Linked DNA regions of Homo sapiens. The protein of the gene in region 1 purifies or fractionates together with the protein of each later gene. This does not show direct contact. Each region holds a gene or a part of one and is shown in the gene's direction. Other genes may lie near its edges. The genes, in order: MTMR7, VIPAS39, VPS33B and RALGAPA2.

Region 1 (7,541 bases):
AGGGAATTTTCTGGAGTCAAAAAAGTGGTTTTTGCATTTAAAAGGAAAAGGTTAGATATATTTGGTGGCTATGCTACCATAATAAAAATTGCAAATTTAATTGGGAAAGCAAATATAAAAGCCAGAATTTATTCAGATTAAAACTGTATTGATTTATCCAAGGGTAAAAGTAGATAAATTGTGGACTTTAAAATAAGTGACAGTAAAAAACTTACAACAAAGTGATTTAGGCAGTATACATGAGAGAACATTTTTTAAATTTTCATAAAATGAAATGGTTTTAACTATGGTGTATACAACATTATCAGATTTAATTTGGGGAATGATCAGTTCAAATGAAATGGACTCATAAAGAAAATTAATTTTTGTAGTGGATACTAGTTTGTTTTCTCTAAGGAAGCTCAAGTGTGATTCCATGGAGATGGAGATGATTTAGAAGGAGCAGAGTGTATCCTTTAGGGTCACCTGTTTTCTTGTACCTGACTAGCCAATTCTAACAGTATCTGCTTGGGTCTGAATATGGCTTTTCCACTTACTAGCTATAGGACTTTGGGAAACCACTTATTCTCTCTATTCCTCAGTTTCTTCATCTGTAAATTAGACAGAGCTCACAGCAACTCAGTGAGGATTAAATGAGAGAAAACGTGGAACATTTAGAATAGTGTGTGACAAATTATAAATGTCCAATGACTATTTGGGGGAAAAAACTCCCCCCAAAAGAACAGCTTAACACACACACACACACACACACGAATCGAACACCTTGTCAAGGCCAGTACAGATGGTGGTGAAGTTGAGATTATTACAGTGTTCTCCCTCTATACCATGAAGTCACCAAGATGATACATTTACCTGCTATCGAACAGACACGTGGTTTTCAGGTAACAATTATTAGTTCCTTTCCAGCATTAATATAACATATCTACTGTGTGTAAGCACCAAAATAGGTCATTTATAGACTTATTTTCTTTATAACAGGATTCAAGAAAGAACATACTCATTATGGGCTCACCTGTGGAAGAATCGGGCCGACTACCTGAATCCTCTGTTTAGAGCTGATCACAGCCAGACTCAGGGAACCCTTCATCTCCCTACAACACCATGTAACTTCATGTACAAGTATGTAAATCCTTGGTAACTTTGTAGCCATGGTATGAACTTGGATTCTGGTACCGTTTAACATTCAGAGGTCAAAGTGTATGACACTGATCTTTGAGGCTTTTATTGGACACAAAAGACACCAGAGGGAGATGCTTGAATATCTGATCTGGTATTTTTGCCAGTGACTCCTCTGCCTCTTTATTCCTCCTAAATGTGGAATTTTCTTCAGGAGGTGATGTTTTATAATAATGATATCATAAAAAGGTTAAGTTCCAATTTATTTTTTTAAAAGCAAATGAAAGAGAATAATGCAAATGCCTTAAGTCAAATGTGGAATCACAAGTTTCAACAGTGATCATGACGTGTTAAGGTTGGAGCAAAAATAATTGTGGTTTTTGCCGTTATACAACAAAAAGGCAAAAACCGCAATTACTTTTGCACCAACGTAATAGGTTGCCTTTTTGTCTCCACTGAATTAAGTCCTACTGGAAGTACTTCCCTTGTGGAAATTACATTAAGATTGTATGTATTAGCCGAGGCGGGTGGATCACCCTAGGTCAGGAGTTCAAGACAAGCCTGGCCAACATGGGGAGACCCAGTCTCTACTGAAAATACAAAAATTAGCTGGGCATGGTGGTGAGCGCCTGTAATCCTAGCTACTCGGGAGGCTGAGACAGGAGAATCACTTGAACCAGGGAGGAGGAGGTTGCGGTGAGCCGAGATCGTGCCATTGCACTCCAGCCTGGGCAACAAGAGCAAAACTCCATCTCAAAAAAAAAAAAAAAAGATTGTATGTATGGGGAGAATGGGGAGAGCAGGGTGGCATCCTACAAGTTCTACTAGGTATGTGCTAGATACGTATGTTTTTTCCTTTGGCTTCCTTGTTAGGCTTGTATAATATGAAAAAACTCAAAGGTCAGCAACATCAAAAGACTCATGCAGAATAAACAGAAACCCCATCTCTTTCTTCCTACTCACTCCCGACACAGACTTGATGGCTTTTCTCCCTGTATAGATTTCGTTTCTCAAGGTTTTTTTTCTTAATTATTTCAATCTAATTATCTTCTCAGAATTTATAGCAGAATATTCTATCATACTAAACAAAAGCCTCCATAGTGCATGTAAGACAAGTTTTAAGAGCTGTTGAGATATGACCAGTTGGATTGCAACTAATTTATTATTAACAGCTAGTCAACACATATTTTATTGAGGATCAAACACTGTTCTGGGCACTGCAGATAAAACAATGACACCAAGTCCTTGCCCTCAAAGTACTTACTTATCTACATAAATAAAATAGTGGTTCTAAGGGTAACTCTGTGATAACACCATTTTTCTCATTTGCACTCCAGTTGCTTTTTTGTGTAGGATAAAAAGGGATTTATTGGTCAGGCGTGGTGGCTCCCGCCTATAATCCCAGCACTTTGGGAGGCTGAGGTGGGTGGATCACCTGAGGTCAGGAGTTCATGACCAACCTGACCAACATGGTGAAACCCTGTCTCTACTAAAAAAAATATAAAATTAGGCATGGTGGTGCATGCCTGTAATCCCAGGTACTTGGGAGGCTGAGGCAGGAGAATCGCTTGAACCCGGGAGGTGGAGGTTGCAAGGAGCCGATATCACACCACTGCACTTCGGTTTGGGTGACAAGAGCGAAACTCTGCCATTAAAAAAAAAAGCGGGGGGGGGGGGGTTATTGCCAATGCAAATGTCAACTTTTAGTGGTCGTGATACAAAAGATAAAAGCTGCAAGTTTAAGATTCCCTTTGTAGCTGAAAGATTCTAAATATACAATTTCAAAGTTCAAAACTAAGAGCCATTTTCTTAAAAGGTAATGGTTACATGTACTATTTTAATTTTAGAAAAATGTATTCTGTGCTAATTCATATATACAGGCAGACTTTTCATAAACTTATTCTCCCCAAAAGGCATTTACTGACCCAAGAAAAAAAACATCAACATGAAATTATTACCTTAAGTAGTGGCTTTTTTGAGGCTGAAATTTGCATTTGGTTATTATTAAGACTGTGGTATCATAGATACCTTAGAAGACTTGAGGATGTGAATTTTCAGACTGTGATAAGGTGGTATCACGACGCTTTGCCATCCTTTCCAGGTTTTGGAGTGGAATGTATAACCGCTTTGAAAAGGGGATGCAGCCCCGACAGTCAGTTACAGATTACCTAATGGCAGTGAAGGAAGAAACTCAGCAGCTAGAGGAAGAACTAGAGGCCCTGGAAGAAGTAAGACATACTTGCTTTGTTAATCTATTTTCTGTGCTTATTTCTTGAAGAGCAAGGCTTCATGAAAGCCTCTTAAGATTCAGTGCAATACAAATATTTCACATTTTTAGTCAGTAGAACACCTGAAACACAACCCCATCCAGGTCAGGACTCAGATAACCGAAGCCCAAACCTAGGCATTTAATGCATTTCACACATCTGGTTTGTGGCTCAGTTCCACAAATTTTTGGTTGTTCCTTATTTTAGGTCAACTTGTTTGGTTACTGTTATTTGAGAGTAGTAAAATTAATTTTTTTCTGGAAAGTGTGAAAAAGTAACAGAATAAAATCAAATATATGTACTTGTAAAACTCTTTCCCCACTTTTAGAAATTATGTTAACTATGATATTAATCTATAATTGGTAAAGGGGAGACTGACTGTAAAGTCTTATCTTTTGGCTTCTATGAACTTCCCTGTACTTGGACAGGGAGGTTATAATAAAATGCTTTTCCTAATTGGATAACTTTGTTTCCAATGGTACTAATGTAGTTTATGAACATCTTAGGATTCTATTAGTCTATTCTAGCAGTCTGGCTCTTTAAAACTGGCTCTTCCTTATTACAAAGTCAAAATTCCTTAGGCTGGCATTTGAGATTTTCTCTTTTCAGCTTTATTTTCCATGCTAATATTTAATGGTTTTTGCTGCTTGTATACAATTTAGACCTTCCTACCTTTGTGTTTGTCCTCTCACTGTCCCTACTCCTGTCAGGAATGCTTACTAGCTATCACCAGAATGTCCAAGTTTAAATCTTTCACAGTCCTGTTAAAATGTTCCTTCCTCCCTGAAACTTACTCTGTTCTTTTCCTTCTAACCTTACCACTTCATCCCTCTTCAAGAACTTTTGCCTTTTTGAAATTCTTACATTGCATGAACTCTGCCTCTCTCTGCTCCACTACTCCATGTTCCTTAAGGCTGGGTCTGTATTTATCTATCTCTTTTCCTCACACTGCCCAGCACAGTGCTTTTGCACATAACCTAAGTGAATGGTTTTGAATGAATACATAATACTTGATCTTATAACACCTCCTGTGTTAACATCAAAACATGAAATCTGGCGAAATGTATTCTGAACAACCCAGGTGTCCATAACATGATGAATGGGGAAACAAAATCTGGTATATCCATGTAATGGAATACTGTTCAGCCAGAAAAAGGAATGAAGTACTTGATACATGCTGTACCATGAATGAATTCTGAGAACATAAGCTAAGTGAAGGAAGCCAGATACAAAAATCCACATGTTGTATGATTCCATTCAATTTATATAAAACATCTAGACTAGGCAAATCCATAGAGATAGAAGTTGATCAGTAGTAGCCAGGGGCTGTGGGGAGATAGGAATGGGAAATGACTGCTAATGAGTATGGGGTTTTCTTTCGGCAGGGGAGGTGATGACAGTGTTTTATAATTAGTAGTGATCGTTGCACAACCTTGTGAATATAACTAAAAACCACTGAATTGTATACTTTAAAAGGGTGAGTTTCACGGTAAGTGAATTGTATCTCAGTATAAAAGTTAGATGATAAACACTTCATTCATGATTTCTAAAAAATGTTTTTTGAGTTCATGGGATGAGACTCATCATTTGAAACCATGTAGGTATAGAAAAGAGGGAGACTAGGGTTCACTGGGTGCTTCAACTGTGCTATATTGTTTATTATTATAGAAAACCTATGTCAAGGCAGGTATTATCCTTACATTAGAGATAAAGCAGGCCTCACAGATTTTGTCCAAGGTCGTGAAGTCCAGGTTTGAACTCACATCCCTCTGAGTCACATGTTCTTAACATTATACCCACGTGGGAGGTAACAAATGCTAAAGACATGCATATATAGAAAAAGATAAGTTATTTATGATTTTTCCCCTGAAATTGTTATTTCTTTCTTAGAGGCTGGAAAAAATTCAAAAGGTCCAGTTAAATTGCACTAAGGTGAAGAGTAAGCAAAGTGAGCCCAGCAAGCACTCAGGGTTTTCTACCTCAGACAACAGCATAGCCAACACTCCCCAGGATTACAGTGGGAATATGAAATCATTTCCATCCCGGAGCCCTTCACAAGGCGATGAAGATTCTGCTCTGATTCTAACCCAAGACAATCTGAAAAGTTCAGATCCAGATCTGTCAGCCAACAGTGACCAAGAGTCCGGGGTGGAGGATTTGAGCTGTCGGTCTCCAAGTGGTGGTGAGCATGCACCGAGTGAAGATAGTGGCAAGGACCGGGATTCTGATGAAGCCGTGTTTCTCACTGCCTGAAGTTTCCCTTTGGAGTTCCAAAGTAAAGGACACATAAGCAACACTTCCAAAAACAAGGGAACAAGGTGGTTTATTGTAAAAACAGGAAATGGTGCATGTCATTGAGAACTACTTTAATGCAGCTATGAAAAGGGAAAAAAGTGCCCAGTTCTTGATTTCTTAGATACTGAAGAGGACGTAGTCATTTCATTTATCAAATATAAGGAAAATTATTCACCATTTTGAAGCTCACCCTAGACTATGAAAATTATATTCACTGCAGAGCAATTACTTCTGTCATTACCTGAAGTGATCAGTATCTATCTTCCTTGTCATAGCATGCATCTCTCAAAAAGCCTCCACTCCTTTCCCTCACATCTGTGATCATCATGATTCTTTTAGTTCACTTCTAGATGCATATTTTGTGTTTTCTAAAGCATCTGACATTATCCTCCTTTCCGACCCTCTTATACATATTTCTAAAAACAGGCACATTGGTGAGATGCACCCTTTTTAGTTAATAGATGCATTCCTAAGGAGCTTTTAATTGCTTATCTTTCAGGCATAATCATCACTTTAACTTTTCCTTGGAGCATATATTTTGAATTGTGAGAATAATTTTGTTGCTTTTCTCTGAGATCTATAGTCTGTTTCTCCTCATTATTTAAAAATGCTAAACCTTGTATCTCACTTTTTCTCTAACACTGATTTAATAGCTAACGAGGTAGAAGCAACATTCATTCTCCTGGTCTTACATATGAATTTAAGTATCAGCTTTCTTGTAATAACCTTTTATTACTGTTCTAGAGACTACACTACCGACAGTGTGGGCCAGCCACCAGCCTGATCTCAAAGTATCACATTATAAAGTTAGTAGATAAAACATCTGTGAGTGAAAATCCAGTTTCAAGAACCAGAGAATTGGGTTGTCATGTCTGTTTAATGAAGGGAATAGGTTTTGTAATCTATCATTTTAGAAATTATGTAACTGGCTAATATGGTTTAATTAACCTTAGTAACATCTCATGACCACTGACTGCTGAAAGTTCTGAAAAGAATTTTTGTTTTGTTACACTGCACATTTAAGGGAGAGTCCCTCCCCTATCTTATGAGTTAAAAAAGACTTCACTAGGTGACCTAAATTAAACTTAGTGGGGAAAAGTGGCCATGTTTGGACATAAATAAATGGTATTCACACTGTATGGTTTTAATATATTAGTACATTCTAGAATGTAAAAGGATTAAACTTTACAATTTAGATCAATATTTTGAATATGTGAAAGGATTAATTTAAACTTTACAATTTACATCAATATTTTGAATATCTGATTTTTTTTAATGGGAGAATTATTACATTTCGCTGAAATGAGGACGAGGGCAAGAAAGCAACATTGCTGATCTCTCTAGTATGAAAGATTTGGAGGGAGTGTTGCAATATATATAAATGAAAACATTTAATTGTGTTCATCATATTTAAAAATATAGAATATATTAGAGAACTGTGATTTAAAAGTACTGTTAATGTAAAAAATAAAGCAAGTGTAATTAATTCTTTCAGAATATAAAATTTGGGCATTCTCTGCTGAGCAGTTCCCAAATTAAGTACAAGGAATGTTTATTCATTTTCTGCAATATACTATATGTAATAGGGAATACCTTGCTAAAATAAAACTTAGGATATAGTGGTAATGGCTTTCACATTTTTATAACATAACATAACTCACTTCACAACCTTCTTGGAGCTGTCCACTCTTAGAAACTCTGTTGCCTAATATTGAGGATGTGGCTTTAATTTCTTCCGTTTGACAGTGTATGTCTATAAAAACAATAAACATTTTTTAAAAAATGACAAAGTATCTATGCCAAACAGCACTATGCTTTTATTTGAAAAGCAAATAGTATAAATATTTGATGTTTTAAAATGTA
Region 2 (7,541 bases), on another chromosome or scaffold:
GTGCCCTGCCCCTGTGCTGCTGAGGCCTTGGGAGACAGAAGGGTTCTATCATGTTATAAGTTCTAGTTACCGGTTTACATTTTTCCTCCAACTTTTTATTTTCCAAAATTTCAAACCTAAAGAAAAGTTGAAAGAATGAATTTTATAGTTCATATAATAATCAAATATATACTATAATAGTATAATAGTCTTTATCCACATCACTAATTTATTAACAATTTTGCCATGTATGCTTTCTCTTTTTCTATACCTATGTGTTTTTCTTTTCTGAATCATTTGAAAGTAAGTTGTAGACATCTTAACACCTCTCCTTTAATACTACGTAAGCACAATATTGGGCTGGGCGCGGTGGCTCACGCCTATAATCCCAGCACTTTGGGAGGCCGAGGCGGGTGGATCACCTGAGGTCAGGAGTTTGAGACCATCCTGGCCAACATGGTGAAACCCCGTCTCTACTGAAAATACAAAAATTAGCTGGGTGTGGTGGTGTGCACCTGTAATCCCAGCTACTCAGGAGGCTGAGGCGAGAGAATTGCTTGAATCCAGGAGGCGGAGGTTGCAGTGAGCCAAGATTGCACCATTGCACTCCAGCCTGGGCAACAAGAGCAAAACCCTGTCTCAAAAAAAAAGAAGCACAATATAATTATCACTAAAAAAATTTAACATTAATATAATAATACATATTTAATCATGGTCCATATTTAAATTAGTTATTTATAGCTACTTTTGGTTTGCTTCTGTATTTTTTTCTATCAGGATCCAATCAAAGACCTTGGATTGAGTTTGGTTGTCATGTCTTTACTGATTTACCTTTTTTTAAATTAATTTTTATTGTATATATTTAAGGTACAACATAATGTTTTGATCTACATATACATAGTGAAATGATTATACAGTCATGCCAATTAACCCATCATCTCACAGTTAGCCATTTTTTGTGAGTGTGGTAAGAACCCCTAAAATTCACTCTCTTAGCAAATTTCCAGTATACACTACACTATTATTAACTGTATTCCTCATGCTGTACATTAGATTTCTAGATTTATTCATCCTGCATAACTACAACTTTGTATCCTTTGACCTACTTTTTTCCCCCTCTGGAAACTACTTTCTATGTGTTTGACTTTTTTAGATCCTACATGAGTGAGATCATGAGGTTATTTTCCTTTCTGTCTGGCTTATTTCACTTAGCATAATGTCCTCCAGGTTCATCCATGCTGTCACATGTCAGGATCTCCTTATTTTTTAAGTTCTGAATATATTCCATTGTATATATGTACCACAATTTCTTTATCCACTCATCCATCAATGGACACTTAGGTTGTTTCCATATCTTGGCTCTTGTGAATAATGCCACAATAAACATGGGAGTGTAGATGTCTCTGTGAGATGCTGATTGCATTTCCTTTGGATTTATATGCAATAGTGGGATTGCTGGATCATATAGTAGTTCTGTTTAAACATTTTTGAGGAACGCCTATACTGTTTTTCATGATGGCTGCACTAATTTACATTCCCACCGACAACAGTGTACCAGGGTCCCTTTTCTCTATACCCTTGCCAACACTTGTTATCTTTCTTCTTTTTTTAAGATAAATGTTATTATATATTGTATATACTTAAGTTATACGATAAGATGTTATGAGATACATGTAGAGAGTAAAATGGTTACTACAGTGAAGCAAATTAACATATCTATCATCTCAAATTATTTTTTTGTGGCAAAAACAGCTAAAATCTACTCATTTAGCAAAACTCCTGATTACAGTACAGTACTATTAACTACAGTCCTCATCTTGTAATTAGATCTCTAAAGCTAATATTCCAGCATGTATGTATATATATACCATAGTTCCATAGTTTCTGTATCCATTTGTTTGTCAATGGACACTTAAGTTGTTTCCTTATCTTGGCTATTTTTTAGGGAGAGGGAATTATTTATTTGTTTATTATTTTTGTAAGTTACAGATATTTAAATTCTCAGCAATAATTTATAATAGTTACATTTCATGAATAGTTAACATCTCATGAATAGTGTTACAATGAATGTGGAAATGCAAGTATCTTTATGAGGTGATGATTTCATTTATTTTGGGCATATACCCAAAAGAAAGATTGATTACTGGGTCATATGATAGTTCTATTTTTATTTTTATTTTTACTTTTTTGAGAGAGGGTCTCACTCTGTCACCCAGGCTGAAGTGCAGTGGCATGACCGTAGCTCACTGCAGCCTGTTTTCCACATTGGCTACACCAATCTACATTCCCACCGACAGGGTACAAGAGTTCCCTTTCCCCACACCCTTGCTAACACATCATTTGTCTTTTTGATAACAGTCATCTTAACAGGTGTGAGGTGATATCTTATTATAGTTTTGATTTGCATTTCCCTGATGTTTAGTGATACTGATCACCTTTTCATGTACTTCTTGGCCATTTCCATGTCTTCTTTGGAGAAATGTCCATTCAAGTCTTTTGCCCATTTTTAAATCTGGCAATTTTTGTTTCTGCTATTGCATTGTGTGAGTTCTTTATATGTTTTAGATACTAATCCCTTATCAGATATGTGGTTTACAAATATTCTAATCCATAGGCTGCCTTTCATTTTGATTGTTTCCTTTGCCATGCGCAGCTTTTTAGTTTGATGTAATCCCATTTATTTTTGCTTTTGTAGCCTGAGCCTTTGGTGTGATATCCAAAAAAATCATTGCCAAGGCCAATGTCAAGGAGCTTTTTCCCATGTTTTCTTCTATGAGTTTTATGGCTTCAGGTCTTATGCTTAGGTATATTATCCATTTTGAGTTGATTTTTGTGTATGGTGTAAGATAAAGGTCTAATTTCATTCTTTTGCATGTGGAAATCCAGTTTTCCCAGCACCACTCATTGAAGAGACTATCCTTTCCCCATTGGGTCCTCTTGGTGCTTTTGTTGAAAATTAGCTGACCATATATGCTTGGGTTTATTTCTAGGCTCTCTATTCTATTCCACTGGTCTATGTGTTTGTTTTTATGCCAGCCCCGTACTGTTTTGATTAATATATGTAACTTTGTAATATAATTTGAAATCATGAAGCATGTTGCCTCCTACCCCTACCCCCCCTTTTTTTTTTTTTTTCTTTTTTGAGACAGAGTCTTGCTCTGTCACCCAGGCTGGAGTGCAGTGGTGCAATCTCAGCTCACTGCAACCTCTGCCTCCAGGGTTCCACTGAATCTCCTGCCTCAACCTCCCGAGTAGCTGGGATTAAAGGCATGCGCCACCCTGCCCGGCTAATTTTTGTATTTTTAGTAAAGATGGGGTTTCACCATGTTGGCCAGGCTGGTCTCGAACTCCTGGCCTCAAGTGATCCGCCCACCTCGGCCTCCAAAAGTGCTGGGATTACAGACATGAGCCACCGCACCTGGCCTCCATTTTGTTTTTCTTTAACATTGATTGCTTTGGCTATGTGGGATCTTTGGCGGTTCAATATGAATTAGTTTACGTTTTAAATATCTGTTTTTCCATTATGGGTTTAAAAATTTTCTGTTTTTCCTATTTGTTAATTATTTAATTAGTTATATTAACAAAGCAATATGTGTCTGTTGTCAAAATCAAACACTGTATTAAAGTATAGAAAGAGTGAAGTTCCTTTTTCATTTTCTACCTACTCCTATCTCACCCCCTTTCTCAAGGCAAACACTGTTAAAAGTTTAATGGGTAGCTTTCCAGACCTTCCCTCATGAATTTGCAAATAAACATCTGTACTTACAAAGATATGGAAGATGGAATTATTTTCTACATTGATAAGTTCATACTACAAATATTAAGTAAGTTACTTATCCCATTTAGTAGTATTTCAAGACTTTTCCCTGCATTCGTTTCTATAGATCTAAGAAGTTATTTCAAACCTGATTCATTTCCACTCTCTCAAATCCCTTGATTTTTCTGAAAAATTCATTTCTCATTATTTCTGTATCCCTCAGCACCCCCACTCACCCACCACATTATTCTGGTCTGATCGTAAAACATAGACTAACCTAGAATGTGTTGAGTGTGCCTGGCCTACCTGCCGCTACCCCATCTTCCTCTTTCAGAACTGGCTGGGCTATACCAAGAAGAGAGCACCCATTGGCTTCCATCGGGTTGTCGAAATTTTGCACAAGAACAATGCCCCTGTGCAGGTAATGGGTCCTGAAGAGAGTTGGGTACAGGATATTCTTGGAGACCTAACTTTAAGCCTCTTACTGGTCAGTGATGGGAGACCCGATCTGCTCTTGTTTTCCCTTAAAGGCAGCACAATGGCTGCAATAGGCCTCAAGACAGAAAAGGCCAGGGAGTGAAATTCTCTCCCTTTCTCCCCTTTAGAAACAATTCCAAACTGTCCTCTCTGAGTAGCATCTACTGTGTTAGCCCAAGTGGAATACTGATGTACTGTTCAAATGATAGAAAAGGAGAACTCGTGGAGAAAAGACATCAGGGAGAAATGAGCAGAGCACTGGATCACAGCTAGAGCACTCATTGCTGGCATGTGTATCTGGCTCGAGGATCAGGAGAAGTGTGCTCTTTCCTGCTTACTGAGGCAGCATGGAAGTACTGTGTAGCGTTACCTCATTCCCATTGCAGAACTAGTCCTGTGGTTGATGATGGAAACTGGAAACATTAGCTATTGAACTCTTTTGCCTTCTTCAGGACTTTCTTTTCTACCTTGTAGAGCTCTGTGCCTTATGGGTGTTTGAATCATTAATCGGAAGTACCTCTTCCCACAGATATTACAGGAGTATGTCAATCTGGTGGAAGATGTGGACACGAAGTTGAACTTAGCCACTAAGTTCAAGTGCCATGATGTCGTCATTGATGTGAGTCCCCAAGAAATGGGAGTCCTCCGTTAGATCCTCAGTGGCGAAGCAGGGTGGGGATTATAATATTCTCTGTCCAAGATCCTGAGGTGCTCCCACCAGGTTTGACTGAATGGACAGAATAATCTGGCAAGAGTTTGTTTGGAGACCAGCACTCCTGTATTATTTTCCCAGCCCTCTGACTGCTTTCTCTGTGTTTTTATAAACTTGTCGTACTTGGAGAATTCATAGAACTAAATCAAGCTATACAAGCTGTGTAGTCTTCTCTCCAACATGGAGTTCTGTGGGCACTGGACCCCACTGTTATCCCACTATAGCCTCTTAGCCTCTCCTTGAGCGTTGGGTCAAAGTGATAATGACAAAAAGAAATAAGCCCTCATGTGTACACAGTAGCACACACCAGTAGTTCCAGCTACTCAGGAGCCTAAGGAGAGAGGATTGCTTGAGCCCAGGAGTTTGAGACCATCCTGGGCAAAAAGAACCCTGTACAGAGGCTGATTGGAGGTTTGTATTGTTTGTTTTGATGCACAGACCTACCGGGACCTGAAGGATCGTCAACAGTTGCTAGCATACAGGAGTAAGGTAGATAAAGGATCAGCAGAGGAGGAGAAGATTGATGCTCTTCTCAGCAGCTCGGTGAGCAGCTACAGTTCACCCCTCCAGCAGGCTCAGGAGACAGACAGTTCACAAAATAGTACCAAATGTATGTTCCCAAGGTCTGGAAGGATTGCAGTTGGCTAAGCCACATGGATGTAAGGCTCTCCTCTGGCCACAATGTCAAAAGCACTGCTTTGAATAGCAGAAATTACTCCTGAGATGCGGTATGATAGGGGGGTAATCTGGGGACCTCAAGCTAAGACTTAACTGTAATGCTGTGATAATAGTTAAACCTAGCATGTAGGAGAAACTAAATATTGAAAGTATGAAAACATGTTACAGATTCAGAATATCCAAACTGTATGGTCTCGTGGGGATGGATGGGACCTACCAGTTGAAAATAAGAAGTGGGTGAAATAGATGTTAGCTACCTGGGGAGCACAGCTGGTTCGTCTCTCACAGCAGGAAATTACTGAGCTCTTTGTTAATATGAAAGTTAGTTCCCTGTTAGGTATTTTGGAACCTACCTTAGGGTCAAATGACCAAAATTAGGCTTGTAAAATACAAAATAGGTGTTTAATGCATCTTTGAATAAATGAACTCCCCCATATATTTTAAAAAATTTCTCAACATCCCCCACCTCCTGATCTGATTCTACTTTTTCTTTTCCTTACATTATCTAGCTGAGCCTTGTTTTGTTGCATTTTCTCTGCCTTGCTGTAGGGATAAGTGAAAACTGATCACACACTTTCATTGTTTCCTCTTTCCACAGCAAATTCGATGGAAGAATTAAGTGGCATTGACTACCTTGAAGCCTGCCTCATTTCCTCCTCTCCTGCCTGTGAAAGCAGAGAGAGCTCTTCTTTGGGAGAGCTGCGGCATCACATCGCTTGGGCCCATTACCCATGGGCAGTGCCAGCTACTCTTGACACAGATAACTTCAGACTGATCTTCTGTCCAAGGAACATCATCTGAGGATCGAGATCTAAAGCTTTGAGTCATGAGAATGATTCTCTCCACCTGGTGCTCATATGAAGGTGGGAGTGATTTCTAGATTGGGCCCCTACTGGGTAAGATCTCACTTGGTCTGAGAAAAGTGACTGCTCCAGAAAGGAAGAGGTATGGGAGTCATAGGGTGGCTACTGCATTCCACTCAGCTAATTATGATCCAGGACTTGGCGCTGGACATTGGCAGTTCTGCTCTGAATGAAGTCAGAACAGAACCAAAATGGCCTCAGGAAGGAATGCCAGTGTTTCCCAAGACCTCCTGGAGATGCACTCACACCAGACTGCACAGACCCCTCCACATTATGCCACACATGGCCTAGACGTTGTGTTTCCTCAGCCATTTTCCCTCTGCTGCCCCAGTTTACTCTGTCCAAAACCCTAAGGTTCTTCTCTCACTTGAACACAGACGACCTTGCTTGGGTGATGAGACATCCCCTTTATCTCTTCCTCTACTGCTGGCCAAGACCCGTCACTTTATAAGAAGCTCAGATGCAGCAGTGCTGGAGAGCTCTCTCTTTATGCAAAAATCTCATTTCACCAGGAGCTTTCAGAAGTTTCACCTGGGCTAAATTCAGCAGCATTTCTGTTAGGATATTTAGATGGAGGTTTTATTTTCACACTTGGATTCTTGCTCTGTACCAATATTTGCCTCCTTTTCTGTGACTGAACTGGGTTTTTCTGACATGCCTAGACTCCTAATAAAGGTATTTCTTCCTTGGTGCCTTCTCTCCCGCTCCTGGTGGTTTTGTGTAGAATGATGAAATAATTGCTCAGGATCTTAGGATCATTACAAGTCTTCCTCAGTGACTGCATTTAGCAGCCTGTCGGCACATGTCAGGTTATAGAGTAACAGTGCTATGGCAAAGCAGGGCTGTGTGGTTAACAGAAACAGCACGGTGCTGGGAGACACAAGACCTGACTTTTTCCAGCTCTACCACTAAATAGTTATGTGATGCTGGGTGAGTCCCTTTCTTTCTCTGGATTCATTAGATAATCTAAAATTTTGTAGAGTTTGTTTGTTTGTGAGATGGTGTCTCGCTCTGTCGCCCAGGCTGGAGTGCAGTGGCGCTCTCAGCTCACTGCAACCTCCACCTCCCAGGTTCA
Region 3 (7,541 bases), on another chromosome or scaffold:
CCTAAGTGGACTCCCTGCCTCCTGTTTCTCTGGTCTTCAGATTCCTCTAACATTTCCAGCTGATTGGAATGCTTCAATACACAAAAGCTTTATTTTTCCCTGTTAATTAGAGGATCAAGGCCACACTCCCCTAAGCTGGCATTTGGAGCCCTTCCTGCTCAATTCTAACCAACTATTTTGGTCTATTTTTCACCATTCACCTACCTCAAGATTTCCTACCCTCTGTTGACCATTTTGAGTTTGGGAAACTAAAAAATAAATAAACATTTAAAAAGGCCAAACGTGGTGGCTCACACCTATAATCCCAACAGTTTGGGAGGCTGAGGCAGGTGGATCACCTGAGGAGGTCAGGGGTTCGAGAACACCCTGGCCAACATGGCGAAATTCCATGTCTACTAAAAATACAAAAATTAGCCAGGTGTGGTGGCATGCGCCTATAATCCCAGCTACTCGGGAGGCTGAGACAGGAGAATTGCTTGACCCTGGGAGGCAGAGGTTGCAGTGAGCTGAGGTCGTGCCACTCCAGCCTGGGCGACAGAGTAAGACTCTATCTTTAAAAAAAAAAAAAAAAAAAAAAAAACAGGCCAGGAGCAGTGGCTCACACCTGTAATCCCAGCACTTTGGGAGGCCGAGGCAGGTGGATCATGAGGTCAGGAGTTCAAGACCAGCCTGGCCAAGATGGTGAAACACCGTCTCTACTAAAAATACAAAAATTAGCCAGGTGTGGTGGCAGGCACCTGTAATCTCAGCTACTCGGGAGGCTGAGGCAGAGAATTGCTTGAATCCGGGAGGCGGAGGTTGCAGTGAGCCGAGATCACGCCACTGCACTCCAGCCTGGGTGTCAGAGGGAGACTTCATCTCAAAAAACAAACAAACAAAACAAAACAACAAATAAGATTTAAAAAAAAAGATTTCCTGCTCTCTATACTGTTGACTTTTTGGGCTGGATCATTCTTTGTGGTGGGGGCTGGCCTGTGCATTGTTGGATGTCTAGCAGCACCCCTGGCCTCTACCCACAAGATGCCAGTAAAACCCCTACCCTGAGTCAGATAACCAAAAATGTGTCTGGACATTGCCAAATGTCCCTCGGAGGGCAAAATCGTCCCCTTACTACACAGCCTATGCTCTCTTTCTGATCTTTGCTGGACTGTCCTCTTCATCCATCCATGTCAACACCCTACTCATTTGTGAAGGCCTGGGTGAGAGGAAACTCCCAGTGACTTTCCCCTCCCTGTCACTAACTGTGACCTCTCCTTCCTCTGAACAGACATTGAGATCGGTGTCAGGAGTGGTGGTGCAGGAATCGTATGACAGGGATTGTGGGGTGGGGGAGTGGAAGGGTGATGGGGTGAGGACTGTCCTGGGTTTGCTAAGTTTTCTGCAGTGAACGTGTGCTATTTTATTTTGTACTTAGGAGAAAAATGCAAGGTGGGGTTCTGTTGTGTTTGGCTTTGTTCAGCAGGAGACCAGGGGTGGTTAGGAGCCAGAGTGGAGGAGGCAGCAGAGAAGGGGAGTGAGGTGCAGACCAAGGTCACAGGTGAGCAGAAGGGTTGAGTGACAAGGAGTTAACCTGAGAAAGAAGGTGGGATGTCTTCTTCCCACTGGTACAGAAAACGAGAAGGCAAAATAGGTAAATATACAGAGAAGTGTCAACTGTGGATACAGATAATAAATAAGGTGACGGGCTAGACGATACTTAGTGCCCTCCCACCTCAGAGACTGTTTCTGTTAGATGGGTGGCTGGGCCACTTCTCAGCTGCGGAAGCTCATGTGACCTGTGAGTGACCCAACATATTGTGTCTCCTTCAGCTTCCTGGAAAAAAGGATTTATTCATTGAGGCAGATCTCATGAGCCCTTTGGATCGAATTGCCAATGTCTCCATCCTGAAGGTACTGTCCCTTTCCCCTGGGGGCCATGCCCCTCTTTAAGCAGTTTTTCTTTTGATGAACAATACAAACTACTGAAGAGTGACTACTCTTGTAGGGCAAATATAGGGTAGCTTAATTGGGTAGAAAAGGGAGATTGATGCTGTTCGTATTTTTTTGTTTTGTGTTTTTTTGCGGCGGGAGACGGAGTCTCTCTCTGTTGCCCAGGCTGGAATACAGTGTAGTGACACAATCACAGCTCACTGCAGCCTTGACCTCCTGGACTCAGGTGATCCTCCTGCCTCAGCTTCCCAAGTAGCTGGGACCACAGGCATGTGCCACCACACCTGGTTAATTTTTAAATTTAAATTTATTATTTATTTTTCTGAGTCTGTTTACTACAGAATATATATATATATATATATATATATATATATATATATATATATATATATATATATTTAATTTTGTAGAGATGGAGTCTTGTTATGTTACCCAGGCTGATCTCAAACTCCTGGGTTCAAGTGATCCTCCTACCTTGGCCTCCCAACGTGCTGGGATTACAGGCATGAGCCACCACACCTGGCCCATACTGTTTTTATATTGTTTTATTTTAGGTTTTTCTATTGACAGTTTGAGGAAAATTCAGTGGGATGGTCGTCAGGGGAGCATAATTAGCATAATTAGGAAGCCCTCAATAATTAGCATAATTAGGAAGCCCTCAAGAAGTCCCCTATCTTCGTGTCACACTTTGTGCTTTTCAGGCACTCTTATGTCCATTGTCTTATTGGATTCTCTCTGTAGCAACACGAAGTAGACAAGCTATACAAGGTGGAGAACAAGCCAGCCCTCAGCTCCAATGAACAGTGAGTGTCTGGGAGAGTCTGTCCCTACTCCAAGCTGGAAGAGGTCCCTAGGGGCACGTCTGCCTTTCATCTGTCCTTGGCTGAGATATATGGTTCACCTCCCTGAACTTTACAATTTCATGGCTAGGTTAATCTTCTGTTGTTTTGTTTTGTTTTCTGTAGTTTCCTTTCTGTGGTTTCTTGTCCTCTTCCCTCTCTAATTTATAATACAGTCTATAACCAGATTGACTAATCTTTCAAAATTATTTTCATCGTGCTTTTCTCAAGAACCTGCAAGGCAGCTGGGTGCGGCGGCTCATGCCTGTAATCCCAGCACTTTGGGAGGCCGAGGCGGGCGGATCTTCTGAGGTCAGGAGATAGAGACCAGCCTAGCTATCATGGTGAAACCCCATCTCTACTAAAAATACGAAAATTAGCCAGGTGTGGTGGCGTGTGCCTGTAATCCCAGCTACTCAGGAGGCTGAGCCAGGCGAATCGCTTGAACCCGGGAGGCGATGAGTTGCAGTGAGCCAAGATCGCGCCACTGCAGTCCAGCCTGGGTGACAGAGCAAGACTCCATCTCAAAAAAAAAAAAAAAAAAAAAAAAAGAAGAATCTGCAAGGCCTCTTATTACTTGCTGAAGATTGTCCACATTATTTGTCATAGACTTCAAGGCTGTCTGCAGCGTGGCCTCCCACGTTACCTTTCCAGCCTTGTCTCGTGTGTCCCCTTCAAGCCTCTGTTGACATGTGCTTCCACCTGCCTCTCAGCCTGTGCCTTCACCCTTTTCATCACTCCATTCGCTCTGCCTGAAATTCTCTCCTGTCCTCACTGCTCCTATAAAGAATGTCCATCCTTCAGAGCCCGGCCACCTCCTCCATGAAGCTCTCTGTTGCCCTTCCAGTCTAGAGTGATTTTCTCCTCTGGATTTCCATGGCATTTTGTATTTGTCCTGTTCGCTCGGCATGTAGTCATGTACAGCTGTTGTCTTGATTTTAAAGTATTTCTGAAACTTAATTAATGTACATGCTTTCTTAGAAGAAAAAATTCTCCTGGATACATGGAGAATATATCCATGTACCCCAGTTTGAAAAAAAATATTTTCTATTACTTTCTTATATTTAAATTTTTTTAATTAAATTTATTTATTTTCAGAGACAGGGTCTCACTCTGTTGCACAGGCTGGAGTGCAGTGGTGCAATCATAGCTCACTGCAGCCTTGAGCTCCTGGCTCAAGGGATCCTCCTACCTCAGTCTCCTGAGTAACTGGGATTACAAGTGTGCAGCACTGCATCCGCCTATAGTTTTATTTTATTTTATTTTTTTGAGTAGGAGTCTAACTCTGTCACCCAGGTTGGAGTGCAGTGGCGGGATCTGCCTCCCAGGTTCAAGCAATTCTTCTTAGCCTCCCAAGTAGCTGTGATTACAGGCGCCTGCCACCTTGCCCAGCTAATTTTTGTATTTTTAGTAGAGATGGAGTTTCTCTATGTTGGCCAGGCTGGTCTTGAACTCTTGACCTCAGGTGATCCGCACTCCTTGGCCTCCCAAAATGCTGGGATTATAGGCATGCACCACCTCGCCAGGCCTTATAGTTCTTTTATTTTACTATTATTATTTATTATTATTTTATTTTATTTTATTTTTTTTGAGACGGAGTTTAGCTCTTGTCATCCAGGCTGGAGAGCAATGGCGCGATCTGGGCTCACTGTAACCTCCACCTCCTGGGTTCAAGCGATTCTCCTGCCTCAGCCTCCTGCGTAGCTGGGATTACAGACATGCGCCACCATGCCCAGCCAATTTTTGTATTTTTAGTAGAGACGGGGTTTCACCATGTTGGCTGGGCTGGTCTCAAACTCCTGACCTCAGGTGATCCACCCGCCTCTGCCTCCCAAAGTGCTGGGATTACAGGTGTGAGCCACCATGCCCAGCCAATGTTTGTATTTTTAGTAGAGACGGGGTTTCACCATGTTGGCTGGGCTGGTCTCAAACTCCTGACCTCAGGTGATCCACGCGCCTCTGCCTCCCAAAGTGCTGGGATTACAGCACTATTATTATTTTTAATAGAGATGAGGTCTCACTGTGTTGCTGAGGCTAGTTTCGAACTCCTGAGCTCAAGCAATCTTCTCACCTTGGCTTCCCGGAGTGTTAAGATTACAGGTGTGAGCCACCATGCCCAGCCTTTATTTTTAACTGACAGATAATAATTGTATATTTTTATGGGGTATTCTTATATTGTTTTTCAGCACTGATTGTTAATATACTCCATATCTGCATCTTTTTTTGCCCACTGGATTGTAAATTATTTGAGAACAGGAACTTTTGGGTCCACCATAGGGCCAGTAATGTACCCAGCTCATCACATTATACCCATTGTGTTGAGAGGTATCTTCTGTGGTTGGTATATGGTGGACCAAGAGAATAGCATAGCTTTGGCTAGGATGAGACCTGTAGGGCAAATGGCAAAAGAGTTGGTATTGTTTCAGTTTCTTCTAAGTTGCTATCCAACTTGATAATTCTTCTTCACTGTTTTTTTTTCTTTCTCTCTCATAGATTGTGCTTCTTGGTCAGACCCCGCATCAAGAATATGCGATACATTGCCAGTGAGTGTGCCATGGTACTATGTGTAACTGTGGGAAAGGGCGGGCAAAATCTAAGGGCCTTGGCCATAAGGACCCTCTAATAAGAAAATAATTGTTTGAGTTGGCCGTAGCACTTGTGGAGGATGTCTGCTTCCCCGCTTCTTTTTTTTTTTTTTTTTTTTTTTGAGACGGAGTTTCACTCTTGTTGCCCAGTCTGGAGTGCAATGGCACGATCTCGGCTCACTGCAACCTCCGCCTCCTGGGTTCAAGCGATTCTCTTGCCTTAGCCTCCCAAGTAGCTGGGATTACAGGTGCCCACCACCAGATCGGGCTAATTTTTTGTGTTTTTAGTAGAGACAGAGTTTCACCATGTTGGCCAGGCTGGTCGCAAACTCCTGACCTCAGGTGATCCACCCGCCTCAGCCTCCCAAGTGCTGGGATTACAGGCGTGAACCACTGTGCCCGGCAGCTTCCCTGTTTCTAGCATAACAGATGGCCCATGACTTGCTGGGCTGCATTCCTTCTCTCTGTAGGTCTTGTCAATGCTGACAAATTGGCTGGCCGAACTCGCAAATACAAAGTGATCTTCAGCCCTCAAAAGGTGAGTTTGGATCCTGGAGGAAGTGGGATAAGGTAGAACAGGACTGAGGACCGGGCAGGGGTAAGGGGCCAACAGCACTACCTCCCTGTCTCCGTTCGTTTTCTGTTGCTGTAACAGAATACCTGAGACTAGGTAATTTATAATGAACAGAAATTTATTTAGCTCATGGTCTGGGGAGGTTGTGAAATCCAAGACTGTGGGGCTGGCATCTGGCGAGGGTCATCCCATGGCAGAAGGGTGGAAGGTGGAAGCCAGCACATGAGACCAAGAGACACCCAGGGGCTGGACTCGCCTTATAGCAACCCACTCCTGCCATAAGGACATTAATCCATTCATGAGGACTCCTCCCTCATAACCCAATCACCTGTTATTAGGCTGCACCTCCCAACACTGTTGCACTGCAGATTCAGTTTCCAACAGATGAACTTTTGGGAGACACATTCAAACCATAGCACTCCCTCAAAGCAAATTATGTGTGATTGAACCTAATACCTGTCACTAACGCATCCTCAATTCATTAACATATCCTCATTTGTTTAGCAGAGGGTCTGTCATCATACTGTCCCAAATAAAGTATTGTGGAATTGTGCGAAGAGGCCTCTACGTAGATTTTTTTAAATGAAAAGCTTCACGCTTGCGAGGTAGAACCTGCTCTGTATCCCTAACACAAACTCTAGTATAGTAATGGTGCACAATGTTACGGCTTTCCAGTGACTTTCTCCCTGTATCCCTTTAAGAATAAATACGATAAATCATCACCCTCCCTCTTCCCATCCGCTATGCTTATAAGGATGTGGCTGGGCTGCCCCTGGGTTACTAGAACCATGCCACCATATATTGGAAAAGCCTTTTCTTGCACAGGAAAGGAACCTTAGAGACTGTTTTACTCCACCCCAACTTTGAGCAGCTGAGGGAACTGAAGCCCATGCTCACACAGTGAGTTAGCACAGCCAGAGTAGAGCTCTTCCATCTTTAACTCAATAATTGCAGTACATATTTGGAGGTCCATCATAGTCTGTCCATTTCTTGATTCCATTGAGCTCCCCTCTCACCTCCACATCAGCTACGTGCATCCTCAATCCCAGTGATTGGGAGGAATGACGTTCCAGGCCTTTACCTTGCCAACCATAGGCCTCTAAAGCTACAGCAAGTAGTGCATGCATACTTACAGAAGGTAGAAGCTAGACTAGGAAGAACAGGGATTTATTCCTTTTCAATCTTTCTAAGAAAATTCTAGAGAAAATAGAGGCAGTAACTAAGGACTGAAGCCTCTGAAACCAGGCTGTCTGGATAAAATCCACCCTTGAGGCCTTATTACCTGTGTGGTCTTGGGTTAGGTACTGAGCTGCTCCGTGTCTCGGTTTTCTCATCTGGAAGATAGAGTTGATAATAGTACTTATCTTTTAATTTAAGTGAGATGACTTTGAGTCTCTGTTGAAATAAGAAATCAAGTGGGACCCTAGGCTTATATTGTTTTCTCCTTCTGTAAAAGGAATAAGAGGAAAGAGCCAGTGACCTTCCTTTGAATGTCACCTGAACATTGATAGCACAATCTTACAAATATTTATCTTAGGATAATATGCTTAGGAATACAAACGTGAAGTATTATTACCAGGGCAAGAAATTATTGAGTAGGACAACCACTCAGAA
Region 4 (7,483 bases), on another chromosome or scaffold:
ATTTTTGAATATGTAAAACATTTATATGGTTCAAAAGTGAAAAAAATATAAAAAGGTATACTCAGAGAGGACCCTGTTTCATTCCTTTCCACCTCATCCTCCATCCCACTTAGGTAGGAATTGATGTTAGCTTTTTATTTATCCTTCCAGTGTTTCTTTTTGAAAAAAAAATTTTTAATATTCTGTTCCTTTTATATTTAACAACGTATCTGGAAAATTATGTCAAGTCAGTACACGCGAAATTTTCCCATTATTTTTAAACAGCTGCATAGTACTCCATAGTGCTACACTGTGTGGATGAACTGGATTAAATTAGCCACTTATAGATGTATGTGTATATAAGTACCTTGTTAGACAATCACAGGGTTCTCTCTGGTATCTGGTCATACTCGTTTTCTAGAGTGGCTGCAACAGATTACCACAAATTGCGTGGCTTAAAACAACAGAAATTTATTTTCTCACGGTTCTGGAATCCTGAAGTCTGAAATCAAGGTGTTGGGCTTCCTCTGGAAGACTCCAAGGGAGAATCCTTTCTTGCCTCTTCCAGTTTCTCTTGGCTATAAGGGTCTTTTCGTTTGTGGCTCCATAACCTCAATCTCTACCTTGGTCTTCATGTGCCCTTCTCCTTTGTTTCTATGTTTTCACTTCTTTTGTTTCTTACAAGCACATTTGTCATTGGATTTAGGGTCTACCCAGATAACTGAGGATCTTATTATATTTGCAAAGATCCTTCTGCCAAATAAAGTCTCAGTCACAGTTTTCAGGGATTAGGACATAGACATATCTTTTTGGGGGGAAGGGTGGGCACTGTTCAACCCACTACATTGGCTATTATAAATAGTGGTGAAAGGAATAAACTTCCATGCATGGTTTTATATTTATTTCTCCATAGAGTTATCCTACCAATTACATATATTGTTAGTTTTATTTTTTCCATTTATTTTTTATTTTCAGGCTTGTCTTTTTCTGTTTCAATTTTTGAATATGGAAAACATTTACATGGTTCAAAAATGAAAAAAATATAAAAAGATATACTCAGAGAGGACACTGAGTCCTTTCCACCTCATCCTCTATCCCACTTAGGTAGGCATTAATGTTAAGGTTTTTTTTTAAATCCTTCCAGTGTTATATATTAGAATATCTGCAGGGTAGATTCCTAGAAGTCAAAATTCTGGCTGGGTGTGGTGGTTCACACCTGTAATCCCAGCATTCTGGGAGGCTGAGGCCCGTGGATCACTTGAGGTCAGGCGTTCAAGAGCAGCCTGGCCAACATGGTGAAACTCTGTCTCTACTAAAAATACAAAAATTAGCCAGGCATGGTGGCACATGCCTGTAATTCCAGCTACTCAGGAGGCTGAGGCAGGAGAATCGCTTGAACCTGATAGGCAGAAGTTGCAGTGAGCTGAAATCACACCACTGCACTCCAGCCTGGGGGACAGAGCAAGACTGTCAAAAAAAAAAAAAAACAACAAAACATGGGAGGCCAAAGCCCATGGATCACCTGAGGTCAGATGTTCAAGACCAGCCTGGCCAACATGACAAAACCCCCTCTCCACTAAAAATACAAAAAAATTAGCCAGTCGTGGTTGCGCACGCCTGTAATCCCGGCTAATCGGGAGGCTGAGGCAGGAGAATCGTTTGGACCTGGCGAGATAGCTCCACTGCACTCCAGCCTGGGTGACAGAGCCAGACTTCATCTCAAAAAAAAAAAAAAAAAAAAGAAAAAGAAAAAAGAAAAAAAGAAATTGAAATTCTGGGTCAAAAGGCAAATATTTATTTTTGCCAAATTTCCTTCCATAAGAGTTGTAGCATCTAACATTTCTACCAGCTATGTTTTCTATAGCTCTGCCACCAGACTAGAGTGTGTTATCACACCTTGTCTCTGTAGAGGTTTTTTGTTTGCTTGTTTTTTCTAATTCAAATGATATTTCAGAGTAGTTTTAATTTGCATTGCAAGTTTTAAACTTTTGATCTCATTATTCTTATTTGCTGATTACTGTAGGACATTTATTCAACAACACTTAATGTCTGCATAACACTCGGCACTCTATAACTCCAGGGATAAAGAATTCAGTGCAAAGCAAGTGAAGCCCTCAAAGAGTTCACAGCCCAGCAGGAACGAGTTTAGAAAGAACAACAGAAAATAAGAAGAGCCATATGGAATATGCAAGTGGGTGAAAAAGTACCAACATAATAATACTATATGTTTCTTCCTTTTTAAGAGAAGAATTGGAGTTCTACATTTTCATTACTGGGTAAAGGCTAGATATGATGGGTGCGATGAATTTATATGCACAGATGCCTGTTTCTGGCATTACCAAGCTTGATAGTATCACATGTTCACTGTACACTGTCATTTATTCCCACATGTATCTAATCGCTCAGCCTCCTTAACTGGATTGGAAGCATTGGAGGTCAGGAGGATGCACCTTATACATCTTTTATCTCCAGGGTTTAGAATCATGCCTTACACATTGCAGGTGCTCAATAAATGTTTGATGATGATGGCAGCTTGCTTTGCAATTAAAAAAATGGAGTTTCCTAAGACAAGTATATTCTATTTTTTCAATCAGTGTAAGGAAAAGTATCTTCTCCTAAAGGAATTGGACAGTGAACATTGTGGTTTACTATGTGTAATCAGGTACAAGCTCAATTGCTGTAACGAAGACTCTCAAAATGCCTTGACTTAAGATAAGACATTATTTTGCTCTCTTGTTACACTTTTAGAAGTTTGTGGTCCTGATCTGTTATCATCTGGGGACTCAGGCTGGTAGGGCCGCTCTGCCATCATCTTGAGCATGGGGCTTTCATCTCCGGGTCTGAGAGTGATCCATGTTATTGGGTTTATCAGTAGTCTGTTCTTTTTTATTGCTGAGTAATATTCCTTTGTATGAATGTGTCTATACAAAGGAATATTACACAAATCTAAAAATAGAGAGACGCTCTAAAACTGTGAGTTTATTTATTTATTTTTTCCTTTTCGCCTGCCTGGTTGAAATATGTAGGACTACTTTAGCTTTTTATTGTATTTCATTTAATAAACTTTTATTGAGTGACCCTATGGGCCAAATACTGTGCTGAGGGATGGGGATACAAAGGCGTGTAAATCCTTGTCTCTTCCCTCAAGTTACAGTTCAGCTAGAGGAGAAAAAGACAGTTGTGTTGTCCCAATTTGGATGGAAACCACGTGATTCTACCTTAAGTACTTGCTGAAAAAGCTGAAAGGATGTCAAAACTTGCAGGATTCGGATGCCACTATACAATCCTACAGTGTAAGAAATCTCCTGACCATCTTTCAGCTCAAAGTCTTGCCCCAGGGAATAAGCGCCTGGCTTTAAAAAGTATACAGGCCTGAGTCAGATCCCTCAGGTTCTATTTCTGGTTCTGCTACTGGATCGCCATGTGGCTTGCACAACAGAGAACGCACCCTTCCTACAAAGAGGCAAGATCCCAAGGAGCCCTCTGAGCGAGCGACCTCCATACCCCAAGTGAGGTTGGGTTCCAGGAACCTAGGGGCCGGCTGAACTCCTCACCGGGGCACGCTCTTCCCTAGTGCCAAAGCAACTCATTTTAGTGTGAAATTAGAGCTGCGATTTCGGCACGGTCAGAGGGGCTTCGACTCGCTCCCTTGTGTGAATCCAGAAGCTAAACCTAAAAATAGTTTGCATTTGAAAAGCCTTGACACTTTTCTTACTGAGATTTTTGGGCGTGTGTGGTTCACGTTGCACTAGAGGAAAATGGGGTGGGCGCGCAGGAGGGAGAGTGAAACCACGGGCGATCTAGGCTGCCGGGGCAGGGGACGGACAGAGGCCGCCCTGCGCTTCTGCGACCCTGGAAAAGAGGTCGCAGCGCGTCGCCTGCTGGAGAACTTCATTTCCCAGGAGCACTTGCGGCCCGCGGCAGGGCGGGGCGACGTGCCCAATGCCGGCCCACTGACTCCCATCGTGCCGAAGACCGCCAGCCTGATTGGAGGACTGTCTCGCGGTGCATCTCGGGACTTGTAGTACAACGTGTGCGTGAGAGAAGCTCCTTTGTGATTCGAGGCGCCTTCTCGGCCCTCTGAGCGCGTCCCCGCTAGGTTTTGGCGCGGACGGGCTAGTGTCCCGCCAGGAGAGTTCGGCCTGTGTGCGCGTGCGTAGCGCCCAAGGGGCCGGCCGGCACCTCCCGCGGGGCGGGGCCTTCGGTTCCCCGTCGACACCGCCTTCCTGCCCCGCCCCTCGCCGTGACCGGCCCGCCCCTCCTTCCTGGAGACACAGCTGAGGCGGCGGCGGCGGCGGCGGCGGCGGCAGCAGCGGGGCTGGGGGCGGCGAGTGGCCCGCGCGACACGCGCCGGCCTCGACCCTATGCTTTGATTCGCGTGGCGCAGGCGCCTACTGCCCCGCCGGCGGGGCCCGGGCTTCCTGCCGCGGGATGTTCTCCCGAAGGAGCCACGGGGATGTGAAGAAGTCCACCCAGAAGGTGCTGGACCCGAAGAAGGACGTGCTGACCCGCCTGAAGCACCTGCGGGCGCTGCTGGGTGAGGCGCGCGCCGGGCGCGGGGGTCGGGGCGCCGGGTTAGGGGCACCTGCCGGGAGGGCGCTCCTCTGTGCAGGGGTCGGTGGCTGGGAGGCTGGGGAGGGGGATGGGTGGGCGTCCGACCCCCTTCCCTGGATCTGGGCTTGGACCCCCGGGGCTTTGTTTCCAGAAAGCCGCAGCCTGGCCCTCGGGCACTGCTCCCGTCGCCCTCGAGTTAAACTTAGCCCAGATTCTCGCTGGGCGCCTGCGCTCCCGGAGAACCTGGAGGCCGGGCACAGAGGTACCTGTCCCCTGTCCTCCCAGCAAGTGAACTGGATCCCAAGTGGTCATCACGTGCACACATTGAACTGTCACCTCCCCCTTTCATTTTTAAAATTTTATTTTTGAGTCTGAGACCCTAAGTAGACCGAGACCCCAAGTGAACCCAGCACAGACCTAATTGGGCTCTCATCTCTGTCATCCCCCTTTTAAATTTTATTTTTACTTTTGAGTGTGAGACCCCCATATAGACCGAGATTCCAGGCGATCCCAGCACAGATTTGTCATCTGTCTTCCCATGCTGCTTTTTAAATTTAATTTTTATTTTGGGTCTGGCTGCTTCAGTTTCTTTGTGTCCTTGGTGTGAAGGGGCCTTCTCTTCCTGCTTGGAGAGAGGGGTGGTTTTCTTGGGTTCAGGGAGGCTGCTTCTCCTTTATTACCGGCATGACAGTGATGCTGTCTGCCACCTTCTGGTTTATGGCCTGCCAGGTGGAGGTTCTGAGGAGCTCAGGTGGGCTTGGAGTTGACCTGTGATGAAGCTCGCCCCTGTGGGTGTGAGGTGTCCACAAGGCTTCCTGTCACCTGCTGCATGTGATCTGTAGCTGGTTCGCCTAGGCTATGTTTTGTTTTCTGTATTTTTTTACATCCTAAGTCTTAACTTTTCTTTGGGATGAAAACACCTTTGCTATCTATAGACACACTTACCTGTGTATTTGGTGGCGAAGGAAAGAACACCTTATGTTTCTTCCAGGTGTCTTTTAGTCCCAAAATTCACAAAAATCGCCTAGTGCTAATGTGTCTGTCACTTGAAAGAATATTGCATAAAATGATTTAACGTGTGAAGATTTTAAATAAAGATCTTGTTCATGAGATCAGAAGTTGCTGATTATTTCTATTTATATTCTACCTCTGAGGGGGAGAAGAACCCAAGCCAAACCAAACCACACCTGATTTTGCCAAGTGAAGTTATTCACAATCTCACATACCTTGAGGTTACACTGACTTGTTCAGTTTGAAATGAAATGTAAATTAGTTGCTGTTACAGGGATTCGTTTTCAAGACTTTTGAGAGTGAAGTGTGGAGAGTGAAGTGTGGCGTTCTTGGTAAACTGAATTTTCTACTTCCTGTAGATACCATGCACGCACAGGTTGCACAATACACAGGTTGCATTGTGTGGAGTTCCTGGTAGTGACTGATTAACACCTACTGCAGGGACATTTTTGATAAAGGAGAGTTGAGCTGTGTTTTAAAGCGTTTGATACTTTGAGCCTTTTTCTGTGCTTTAGCGTTTAAATTTTTGTTCTGTCCAGGTCTGCAAGATTAAGTTGGCTACATTTTATAAAGGCAGAATCAAGTAAACCTAGATCAGGTTATTTCTTAGCACACAGTACATTGTTCCCATTCTGAGAAAGTTGATTCTTTTCAAGTTTGTAAAATTGTAGTTTCACTCTAAGGTGTAGGTCTTATTTTAGGGAACTTTCTTTTATCATTTCACTGAACTCATCATGACCTCAGTTTTGTAACATGGAGAGGTTCTTTTATATTTCCTTAGGTGTATGTTTTTTGTTGATATACTTACTAGTGGAGTGGCCCAGTTTGCTTTGTTTATTACTGTGATCTTTGTAGGGACTAGATTTTTGTAAAATGTGTCTGAGGAATTCTAGTCATAATATTTAATGTAAACTTTCACTTGCTCCTGTGATTTATTAAAGACTTAAAAAGTAGTACGTAATGCACTAGTTCCTACCTAATCACATATTCTATTTCATTGCTACTCGAAAAAAAGTCTACTTAGAAAACAAAGGCCTCTTGAACTGAAAGTTAGGAATTAAGCCAAGATTAAGGAAACTATTTGAAGGAAATGAATAGTAATTACTATTGTATTTTTATGTGTGTATTTATATAACACTTTTGCTTTTCATATATTTTATCTTCAAGTGATAATAAAGTTTTTTTTTAAGTATGCAAAGATTATGCCACTTACTTGGGTATTTGCAGCCTGTCCCTGCCGCCTGCAGCTTCATGACTTGAGCTAGTTACGTAGCCTGTCTCTGAACCTCGGTTTCTTTGCTCTGTAAAATGGGTATGGTAATGTTTGCTTTTTAAAGGATTATTGTGAGTATGATGAATAAATGACTTCAGCTTGAAGTAGGCCTTTAACAGTTTCTTTCCCATTACATATCTCCCACCATTAATAGGATAGGACCAGTATTTTGATAGGTAATTTTTCTCCGTCTTTCTTATTTTTGATAATAGTGATGAATTTGTTCTCTTTTCCTAAAAAGTAGTCTGTATTTAAAACAACTGGGTGAGAAACATAAAATTAGCTGTGGAAGTAGAGTATTTCTTAGTATCATGGTAATAACTCCAATTTGGATGTAGATACTTTCACCTGGCTATAGACTGGTCTGGTATGATTAACTTTATTTTACAGAGGGGTAAGCTGAGGCACAGGCAGGCTTGACACGTATCAAGCCATGTAGCAGACGGTTTACTTATGTTAGAGGAAGAACGAAGAGCTGTTAGGTCCTGTGACTTCCAGTTCTTCCTACACTGTTGACAAAACAAAAACCAAAAAACCCTGTGTATTACCATATTGCTCCAGCAAAGATTCCATGTCTTTTTTTTAACAGGATCTTTGCTCTGTTGTCCACGTTGGAGTACAGTAGTTTGACCTTGCCTCAACTGCTGCAGCCTTGGCCTCCCTGGC

Evidence for each region.
Region 2: the proteins of MTMR7 (region 1) and VIPAS39 purify together in Homo sapiens (affinity purification with mass spectrometry; 2 studies listed by BioGRID and IntAct, with this or other methods). This does not show direct contact.
Region 3: the proteins of MTMR7 (region 1) and VPS33B purify together in Homo sapiens (affinity purification with mass spectrometry; 2 studies listed by BioGRID and IntAct, with this or other methods). This does not show direct contact.
Region 4: the proteins of MTMR7 (region 1) and RALGAPA2 purify together in Homo sapiens (affinity purification with mass spectrometry; 2 studies listed by BioGRID and IntAct, with this or other methods). This does not show direct contact.

The regions. Positions count from the first base shown.
Region 1 is NC_000008.11:17,297,957-17,305,497, reverse strand, and holds part of MTMR7 (phosphatidylinositol-3-phosphate phosphatase MTMR7), read left to right. Parts: intron 1-100; exon of another isoform or gene 101-978; coding exon 979-1,119; exon of another isoform or gene 1,120-3,217; coding exon 3,218-3,344; intron 3,345-5,008; exon of another isoform or gene 5,009-5,273; coding exon 5,274-5,636; 3' UTR 5,637-7,541. UniProt on the Homo sapiens protein: Lipid phosphatase that specifically dephosphorylates the D-3 position of phosphatidylinositol 3-phosphate (PtdIns(3)P) and inositol 1,3-bisphosphate (Ins(1,3)P2).
Region 2 is NC_000014.9:77,426,297-77,433,837, reverse strand, and holds the end of VIPAS39 (spermatogenesis-defective protein 39 homolog), read left to right. Parts: intron 1-3,668; coding exon of another isoform or gene 3,669-3,719; exon of another isoform or gene 3,720-3,748; intron 3,749-4,070; coding exon 4,071-4,157; intron 4,158-4,742; coding exon 4,743-4,832; intron 4,833-5,363; coding exon 5,364-5,468; intron 5,469-6,201; coding exon 6,202-6,222; 3' UTR 6,223-7,163; downstream 7,164-7,541.
Region 3 is NC_000015.10:91,012,154-91,019,694, reverse strand, and holds part of VPS33B (vacuolar protein sorting-associated protein 33B), read left to right. Parts: intron 1-1,809; coding exon 1,810-1,890; intron 1,891-2,630; exon of another isoform or gene 2,631-2,670; coding exon 2,671-2,732; intron 2,733-5,261; coding exon 5,262-5,311; intron 5,312-5,823; coding exon 5,824-5,891; intron 5,892-6,024; exon of another isoform or gene 6,025-7,261; intron 7,262-7,541. UniProt on the Homo sapiens protein: May play a role in vesicle-mediated protein trafficking to lysosomal compartments and in membrane docking/fusion reactions of late endosomes/lysosomes.
Region 4 is NC_000020.11:20,709,408-20,716,890, reverse strand, and holds the start of RALGAPA2 (ral GTPase-activating protein subunit alpha-2), read left to right. Parts: upstream 1-4,246; 5' UTR 4,247-4,410; coding exon 4,411-4,516; intron 4,517-7,483.